Homo sapiens: one gene and its partner. The protein of the gene in region 2 purifies or fractionates together with the protein of the main gene of each other region. This does not show direct contact. Each region holds a gene or a part of one and is shown on either strand. Other genes may lie near its edges. The genes, in order: KCNMA1 and KCNMB1.

What was found.
Region 1: the proteins of KCNMB1 (region 2) and KCNMA1 purify together in Homo sapiens (affinity purification with western blotting, with the first as the bait; one study listed by BioGRID). This does not show direct contact.

Annotation. Positions count from the first base shown.
Region 1 is NC_000010.11:76,885,569-76,889,384, forward strand, and holds part of KCNMA1 (Calcium-activated potassium channel subunit alpha-1), read right to left. Parts: intron 2,714-3,816; exon of another isoform or gene 2,476-2,713; intron 1,948-2,475; coding exon 1,698-1,947; 3' UTR 1-1,697. UniProt on the Homo sapiens protein: Potassium channel activated by both membrane depolarization or increase in cytosolic Ca(2+) that mediates export of K(+). It is also activated by the concentration of cytosolic Mg(2+).
Region 2 is NC_000005.10:170,387,110-170,391,025, forward strand, and holds the start of KCNMB1 (calcium-activated potassium channel subunit beta-1), read right to left. Parts: upstream 2,259-3,916; 5' UTR 2,150-2,258; intron 1-2,149. UniProt on the Homo sapiens protein: Regulatory subunit of the calcium activated potassium KCNMA1 (maxiK) channel. Modulates the calcium sensitivity and gating kinetics of KCNMA1, thereby contributing to KCNMA1 channel diversity.

The DNA of each region.
Region 1 (3,816 bases), on a different chromosome or scaffold from region 2:
CACCTTTTTAGAGATGGTACAGCTGTGACATGTTTTCCTCCTCCCTTTTACCCCTATTCTATTCGATGGAATTCTTTGAAGTAAAACTTTTCAAATATGTATATACCAGCCTAGTCCATCCATAAGGGAAATTGGTTATGGTGAATTGGCCAGTTTTTAAGAAATACCGCACTGCCTAAAGCATGATTTGCATGCACAAAGCATCTGACAACTATATGTTGAAAAAAGGGTATTTTTCTACCTCTCCTCTCATGCTTACTAAGTGTTAAAAAAGAAAGAAAACAAAAGAAGAAAAAAATAACTATACCAAAATGTGTTTGGCTCACTGTTGCACTCTTCTTATCCCACGTCTCATAATGACAAGGAGCAGCTCTCTATTGCCGTCATTACCCTGCCTAAATTGGCTACATTAAAGAAAGTGATGATGAGGAATTCCTTCCCACCAGCTTTCTGCATTGGGACAGCCAGCACCGCACAGCTGTGCCAACAGTTGAAGGTGGTGGCTGGCTTTTGTCTTTGTTGAGTCAACTGTGGCTGATCCTCCTACATTCTAATTTATTTAGCATGTCGGCTCCTAGAAAAGCATGATCTGCAGCTGGGTTTGTCTTCCTCTCACTCTACCATTGCCCCAGCCCTTCCTCCTACCTGGCATTGGGGCCCTAACTAATCAAACAAAGGGGAGTAAAAAGATCCCCTGAGAATGCATGGAAAAATACTTGCTCTTTCCTGAGCATTATTTATTCTGTACATAAGGTAAGTAATTCACCTTTTAAAAGATGTAAAAGTCCCAGGAAGGCAGTTTTTAATGACTTACATCTGATATTTATGATACATATGGCTTTTCATCCCAAATGTCAAAAGTGAAAGAAAAAAAATAGCTATTCATATGGCAACATAAGGAGACAGAATAACAATTTAATATGCAATCAAACCTCTTTTCACTTAAACTAAATGACTAGAATTTGATACATCCATGATTGGAATACTATTCTCTCCTCCATATTAAGGTGAGAAATGTTCATAAGAACTCCCAGAGGGAACTGGCTCTGGGACAAAAGGCCTTGGTGAGTAACTAAAAAAATCACTGATGTTCTCTTGCAACAAGCAGGTCCTTCATAATCATCTACACAAATCGTGAAAGCTTTTCAAATGCTTCGCAATACTTCGGCCCAGAGACTGGAAACAATCAATATGTTTTCATTGCTGTTTGGTTGCTTGTTTCAAATAAACATGTGCTAACTTATTGTGTGTATAAAAAAAGAAAGAAAGGAAAACAACAACAACAACAAAATCAAAACCCAAAGCACCCTGATAATCCTGATAAATCAGAATCAACTTTTCTTTTACATTAAATAAACTTGCTCTGCCTAACTGACGTTGATCACAAGTGCTCCCTTCTAATCTGTGAACTCGTTCCTGCAGTGAGCTATTTATGTCTGGAGCATGCCTTTGGGTTATTTTTCCCCCAGAATCATAAATAACTTTTGGTCCGTCTGCTTATTTGCTGTTGTGCTCAAGGGTTTTATGGTGGTGAAATAAAAATGACAACCACATGCACACTATCATACATATGCAAATATGTGTAAAAAAAAAGGGGGGGACTACAGGGGAAAACAGGGAAAGTTACTTTGTTGGAAACACCAACTGGGGAAATGAGTGGCAGATACAGTTTCACACAGTGGCGGTGGATACACATATCAAAGCCGCTCTTCCTGCACGTACTTCTGTTTGTCCCGGGACTCCCTGGACTTGGGCCGGTTCTGTCGGTTTGCTGTGGATGGGATGGAGTGAACAGAGGAGCTCTTCTTGCTGGAGGACTGCGACGAGTGGGAGGAATGGGACAGGCTGGCCCGGGACTGGCCGGCATTGTGGTCAAACTGCATTAAGCAGAAGATCAGGTCCGTCGGCACGAGCTCAAACTCATAGGGCGGGTTGGTGATGACATACCTGGACAGGGAAAGCAGAGATGTCACCTCCTGAGAGTAACTGAGTAAAGAATTCAACTCTCTCTGAACCAAAAGCAATGGCCTGGTTACTCAGGACTTTCAGAGGATCTGGAAGATGCACTCCTAGCTGGTCTGAGGCCTTAAACATTCTTTTTCTTGTTAAATGGAAACTTCCTCTGTTTAACTCAATAAAGGAGGCCAGCCAGGAGCCCAGGCAGAGATGTGGAATTAGAGCCAGTAATGGAAGAACCAAACTTCGCTTCTCGTGGTCTACATGTACCTTTCTATACAAGGTCAAAGTCACTTTCAAGTAGCCCAACCGCAAGAGGTTTCATGAAGTGTGATGCAACTTTCATTTCATAATTTTCGGACAATCCCAGATATACATCACAAGATCTTTGTTTACCATGACAGAGTGTCTCCTTAGACTATTCTCGCTCTTTACCTTTTAAAATCTACTTTGGTGAGAGAATTTGGAATTTGGAATTCACCACATGGAAGAATCTAAGAAACCTGCCTACTTATCAGCACTACTTTGTTGTTCTTCACAATTAGTTGGAGCTTTCTTTGGTCAACAGCAGATGTGACTAAGAAAATCACGCTGTTTCACTTAGAGCAGTGGTCACCAAGTGTGGTCCTTAGGCCACACAGGTCAGCATCACCTAGGAACTAGGAAATGCAAGTTCTTAAGCAATCCCACCCAGACCTACTGAATTGGAAGTGCTGAGGATGGGGTCCAGCAATCTGTGGTTGAACAAGCTCTGCAGGTGAGTCTCATGATGGCTAAATTTTGAGAACCCACTGGTCTATAGCAATTGTTCTCAATTCTGGCTATACACTATAATCCCTGGTTATTATATATAAAATGTTTACATAATTTAAAATATATATATGATGTTTTCTTCCTTCCAGACCAGTTAAGTTAGAGTAATCAGAATATTTTTTAAAAGCTCCCCAGGTGATTCTACTATGCAAGCAGGGATGAGAAACGCTTGTCTCTGCAGCACTGTTGCCTAGGGTATATTATGCAAACTCACTGATCTTGGTAATTCTAGGATGTACTTTTAATTTTTGCCTGCTATGAATTTATTTTAATGCATATGAGAAAAATATAATTGGCACATCTAAACTGTTATTTCTCTGCTTAAGGTGATAATATATAATTGTCTCAAAAATAAATATATAAAAGTTAAAAAGCGAGTCAATTTAAAATATGTGAAGTAAAAATATGGGATTCTGAGATATGGCAGAAGAACCACTTATCTTAGGGCGGGGTGTGGTGGCTCACACCTGTAAGCCCAGCACTTTGGGAGGCCGAGGTGGGTGGATCACTTGAGGTCAGGAGTTCGAGACCAGCCTGGCCAACAAGCCTTCTCTCTACTAAAAACACAAAAATTGGCTGGGTGTGGTGGTGTGTGCCTATAATCCCAGCTACTCAGGAGGCTAAGGCAAGAGAATCACTGGAACCCAGGAGGCAGAGGTTGCAGTGAGCCAAGATTGTGCCACTGCACTCCAGCCTGGGCAACAGAGCAACACTCCATCTCAAAAAACAAACAAACAAAAAACAAAAAAACAAAAAAACTTATCTTAAACACTAGCAATGTAAAATATCTCTATATTAGGTACCAACAGATGTTATCCTAGTAGCTAGAGTTTGGGAGAGATGTTTGTGTATTCAGACTTTTGTAATTAGGTGATGGAATTATTCTATTAATACAAAACTTGAATTCTTACCAAAATGTCTTTACATCTACTATTAGTAATTATAGAAAAATGCTTCCCATCACCTCCAAACTCAGTGTTGGATTTAATATGGGCAGAGTAATTTGCATGTTGAGGAGATGTATACAGACCTTTGCCTTTACAGTAG
Region 2 (3,916 bases):
TTAAAGTAACCAGAGTCCATTTCTACCAAAAATACCAGGAAGCTATCAATGTAATCCTCCATTTTAGGGGAAATTTTAGGGGAATTTAGGGGAAATTTTAGCCAGATATCAGGGGGACTTTATTCTCCTTGCCAGGTCCCTAAAGTAATAAACATATTATGGTTTTTGTTTGTTTAATTAGCCAGTGTCCGGGTGACAGGCCTTAGTCCAAAGAGATTTTCTGCAAAGTGCTCTATTTTCTGCTCAGGCGTCTCTTAACTACTAGACTGTTTCAAATATTCAGAGATTCTTGACTCCCTCCCCTTAGCCAGGCTGCCCTCATACCCGGGCATCTCCGCTAAAGGGAAGAGACCAGGGTCAGGCACCACGGATACCCATCACACCTTCCCAGTGAGCTGGTCCACCTCCCCTATCGATCGGCAGAGGTGACATCCAATGACAACTTTTTCTCCTTTATTTGGCACCAGGAGGTGAGTTTCTCCTGCATTCTAATGGAGACATTATAAAAGCACAAGCAAGCAGAAATTGCCCCCGACAAAGAGAGATGTTTTATTCAACTCTTTTTATTCAATCCTTTTCCTCCTGTTCTGTGATCTTGTGGGAATGGGAGAGCCCATGCCTTTTTCTACCTGGCGTCAGTTGAACAAGACTCTCCATGTATTCACAGGTAAAGCAACAGAATCACCTGGAGGTAAGCTAAAAGCCCCAACAGCCTGCTTCCCCAGGACCTGCAAGGGTCACTGGCACTTGGCCCCACCCCAGATACTGTGAGACATAAATCATTTGAAGCCAATGGGAAATCCCATCTTGGAAGCCTAGGGCTGAGTGCCCACAACAAAGCCATTTCTCTCCTGGGGGAACTGGATCGCACCTGTGGGGGCTTCCTGTGGCTCCTTCCTGGCTAATCAGCCCCCCCCAGCGCCCAGGGCCATGGCCTCCTCTGCTATTTGGCTTCTAGTGCCCTCTCAGGCCCCTGGGCACTCCTGAGGCTGGTGAAGGCAGGAACCTGGTTTTACCAGTTTTAGGAGCTCAGAAGGAAAGGAAAGGAGAGGCTTCCCTGTCACAGAGAAGTCTGGAAACTTGGCTTATTCAGGTCTGACCCGTCTCTAATGGTCTGATGAGATTGTTGCCTGCACTGAGTGAGTTTATAGAGTCATGATAAATCCTCCTAAGACCATGCGTGGGGTTCAGTGTAGATATGACTTCAGCAAGAAGTTAGTATTCAGCATCCAAAGGGAGAACCTTTGGCGGGAGGAAGGATGGGAACTGTCAATATCCCCCAAGGGACAGAAAGAAAAGGAAGAAGTGGGTTTCAGCTATCATAGGAGGGATTTCAGTTAGACTGTAAGAAGAACTTCCCAGTTTTGAGCATTTCTAAATATCTCTGAAGTTCCAGGATATATCTTCCCATTTAGAAAGGTCACTTGAGATCTGGGATAGATTCAGAGAAGATGGAGAAGGACAAAGGAAGGCAGGACTTTGGAGTGTCCTGGGTGACCTGATAGCTGGGTCGACATCCTTTTCCTTAGAAGGACAAGGAATAGAGTACATTGTTGAACAGTTTGGTGGGGTGTGGACAGGGCGATTCTGAGGTCCTCAGACATGGAATCAAATCCTGGCTCTGCCACTTACACTTAGCAACCACATGACTGTGAAACGAGAACCATGGTACCTGCCTCAGAGAGTTCAGCTAAAGATCAAATGCCATATTGAGTATCAGACATGTATCATAGCACCTAGCCCCAAATCAGCCCCCAGTAAATATTAGCTATTACTACTAACGAAGGAAACCCTGAAAGTTTGGAGCAGAAGTCTGGACCCCTCTTGATGAATCTATTTTTGTCCCACCTCTCTACCGGTGACAAGTGCCAGCATTGGTGTTAATCTCCAGGCTGCAGCCTTCTGGCCACTCTGAGAACTGGGACCTAGAGGGCCAGGGCGCTTACTACCAGAGTAACCTGGCCACTGTGCCACCCTCCCCACTGGCCACCAGACCACGGGCCCTCCATCCAGAAGGACAGCCCCGAGAGGAAGGGAGTCCTCCTGCCTGCCTCCCTCCCTGCCCCGTGGCAGGCTGCTTTCCCCTGTCTCCCTCCAGCCCGGTCTTCAGAGAAATCACTTCCCAAGTGCTTTCAGGCCCGGTACTCACAGTCTTCCCGGCGTCCTGTGGGTCTTGAGCAGCAGACAGTTTCTTTCTGCCTGGACCCCCGCCCCCACCCCAAAAGAGGCCACAGAGCTTCAGCAGGAAGTTTGGCCTCCCCGCCCGTCTCCAGGGAAGCAGCTTTTGGTCCCCATCTGGGGCAAGCCTCCATGCCCAAACATGGTCAAGTCTGAGCACACAGCCTGGAGACACAGACTCGGAGAGCAGGTACCCAGCCCTGAGGAAGGCAGCTGTTACCCAAGCCCTGCACCTCCATCTTCCCAGAGTCTCGTGGGAAACAGATTTCAAACAACAACAGACAGCAAGACTGAGAAACTACGAAAGATCAGCCTGGTATATTTGGAAATATTTCTTCTTCTCTCTGTCTCTGTGGGCTGGCAAAGATGCCAGAAATAGGAAATGATTCTCCTTTTGTTGGCATGAGGAAGGGTGGAGTTGGGCTGGAGGGGTTGGGCTTGTCACTAGTCCCTGGCATATCCACGCTGGAGCAGCTACAGCTCCCTGCCTTTGGCACTTACGTGCTGTGTGACCCTGAGCAAGTTATGGCACCTCTCTGGGCCTCAGTTTCCTTTTTTGTTTTTGGTTTTACTCCCAAACTTATCGTTAAATGACCTCAGTTTTCTCACTTGTGTTACTGGCATTTTTAAAACCTACTTTGCTTTAGGGTAGTGATGGGAGTTAGAGACGGTGGGGATTTATGGCAAGGGGAGAGAACTGACTTTTTAAGGACCAACTGAGCTGAAGCTGGGAGTAGTGAGAGCTCCACAACTGCTTCCAACCAGGTCCAGGGACAGTCTGCTCACCAGGGGCCCTCCCAGAGACCGCGAAAGTACAGAGATTTCTTCCTAGCAATAAGACAAGTGAATGTCAGCATTTGCAGGCAAAAAACATGCTTTTAGATCTCTGCTTCTTCATCTGTAAAGTGGAAGTAAGGATTAAAAATCAGCAACAAAGGGCAGGCACAGTGGCCCACGCCCATAATCCCAGCACTTTGGGATGCCAAGGTAGATGGATTGCTCAAGCCCAGGAGTTTGAGACCATCCTGGGCAACATGGCGAAACCCCATCTCTACTAAAAATACAAAAATTAGTCGGGCATAGTGGTGCATGCCTGTGGTCCCAGCTACTTGGGAGGCTGAGGCAGGAGAATCGCTTGAACCTGGGAGGCGGAGGTTGCAGTGAGTCAAGATTGTGCCACTGCACTCTAGCCTGAACAGAGCGAGACCCCGTCTCAAAAAAAAAAAACAAATATATATATATATATATATATTTTCAACAAAACAACAAAAACAATCCCAGATATTGGGGCTTTCCTAAGTATCAGGCGTGGTGGTAGAAGGCAGCTTATCTCCACCCTTCACTTGACCCAAGAATCAAAGAACCTGAAACTGAGACTTGGAGGCTTGAAGTCACTGGTGCAACCCTAGGGGCCAGAACTAGATTCGAAGCTGGCCCTTCCAGATGGCACAGCTTGGTCTGTCTCTGATGACCCTGGGGCTGCTCTGAGACATTAAAAATCACCTCGATCATACAGTAAGCTGCCACCTGAGGCTCTGGAGGTCACCCTGAGTTTCCCCAGCCCCCAGGGAGGTGGGTGCAGCCTGGCCTTCCCTGCTGAGCGAGCTCACCACCTTCCTCCCTCCTGCCTCCAGCAGGCGCGAAATGAAGGCAGCCACTCAGGCCTCCCTGACACACTCTCAGGCGGTGAGTGCCCTTCTCCACCCCTTTCCTAATTGAATCTTATTAACAGGAGACT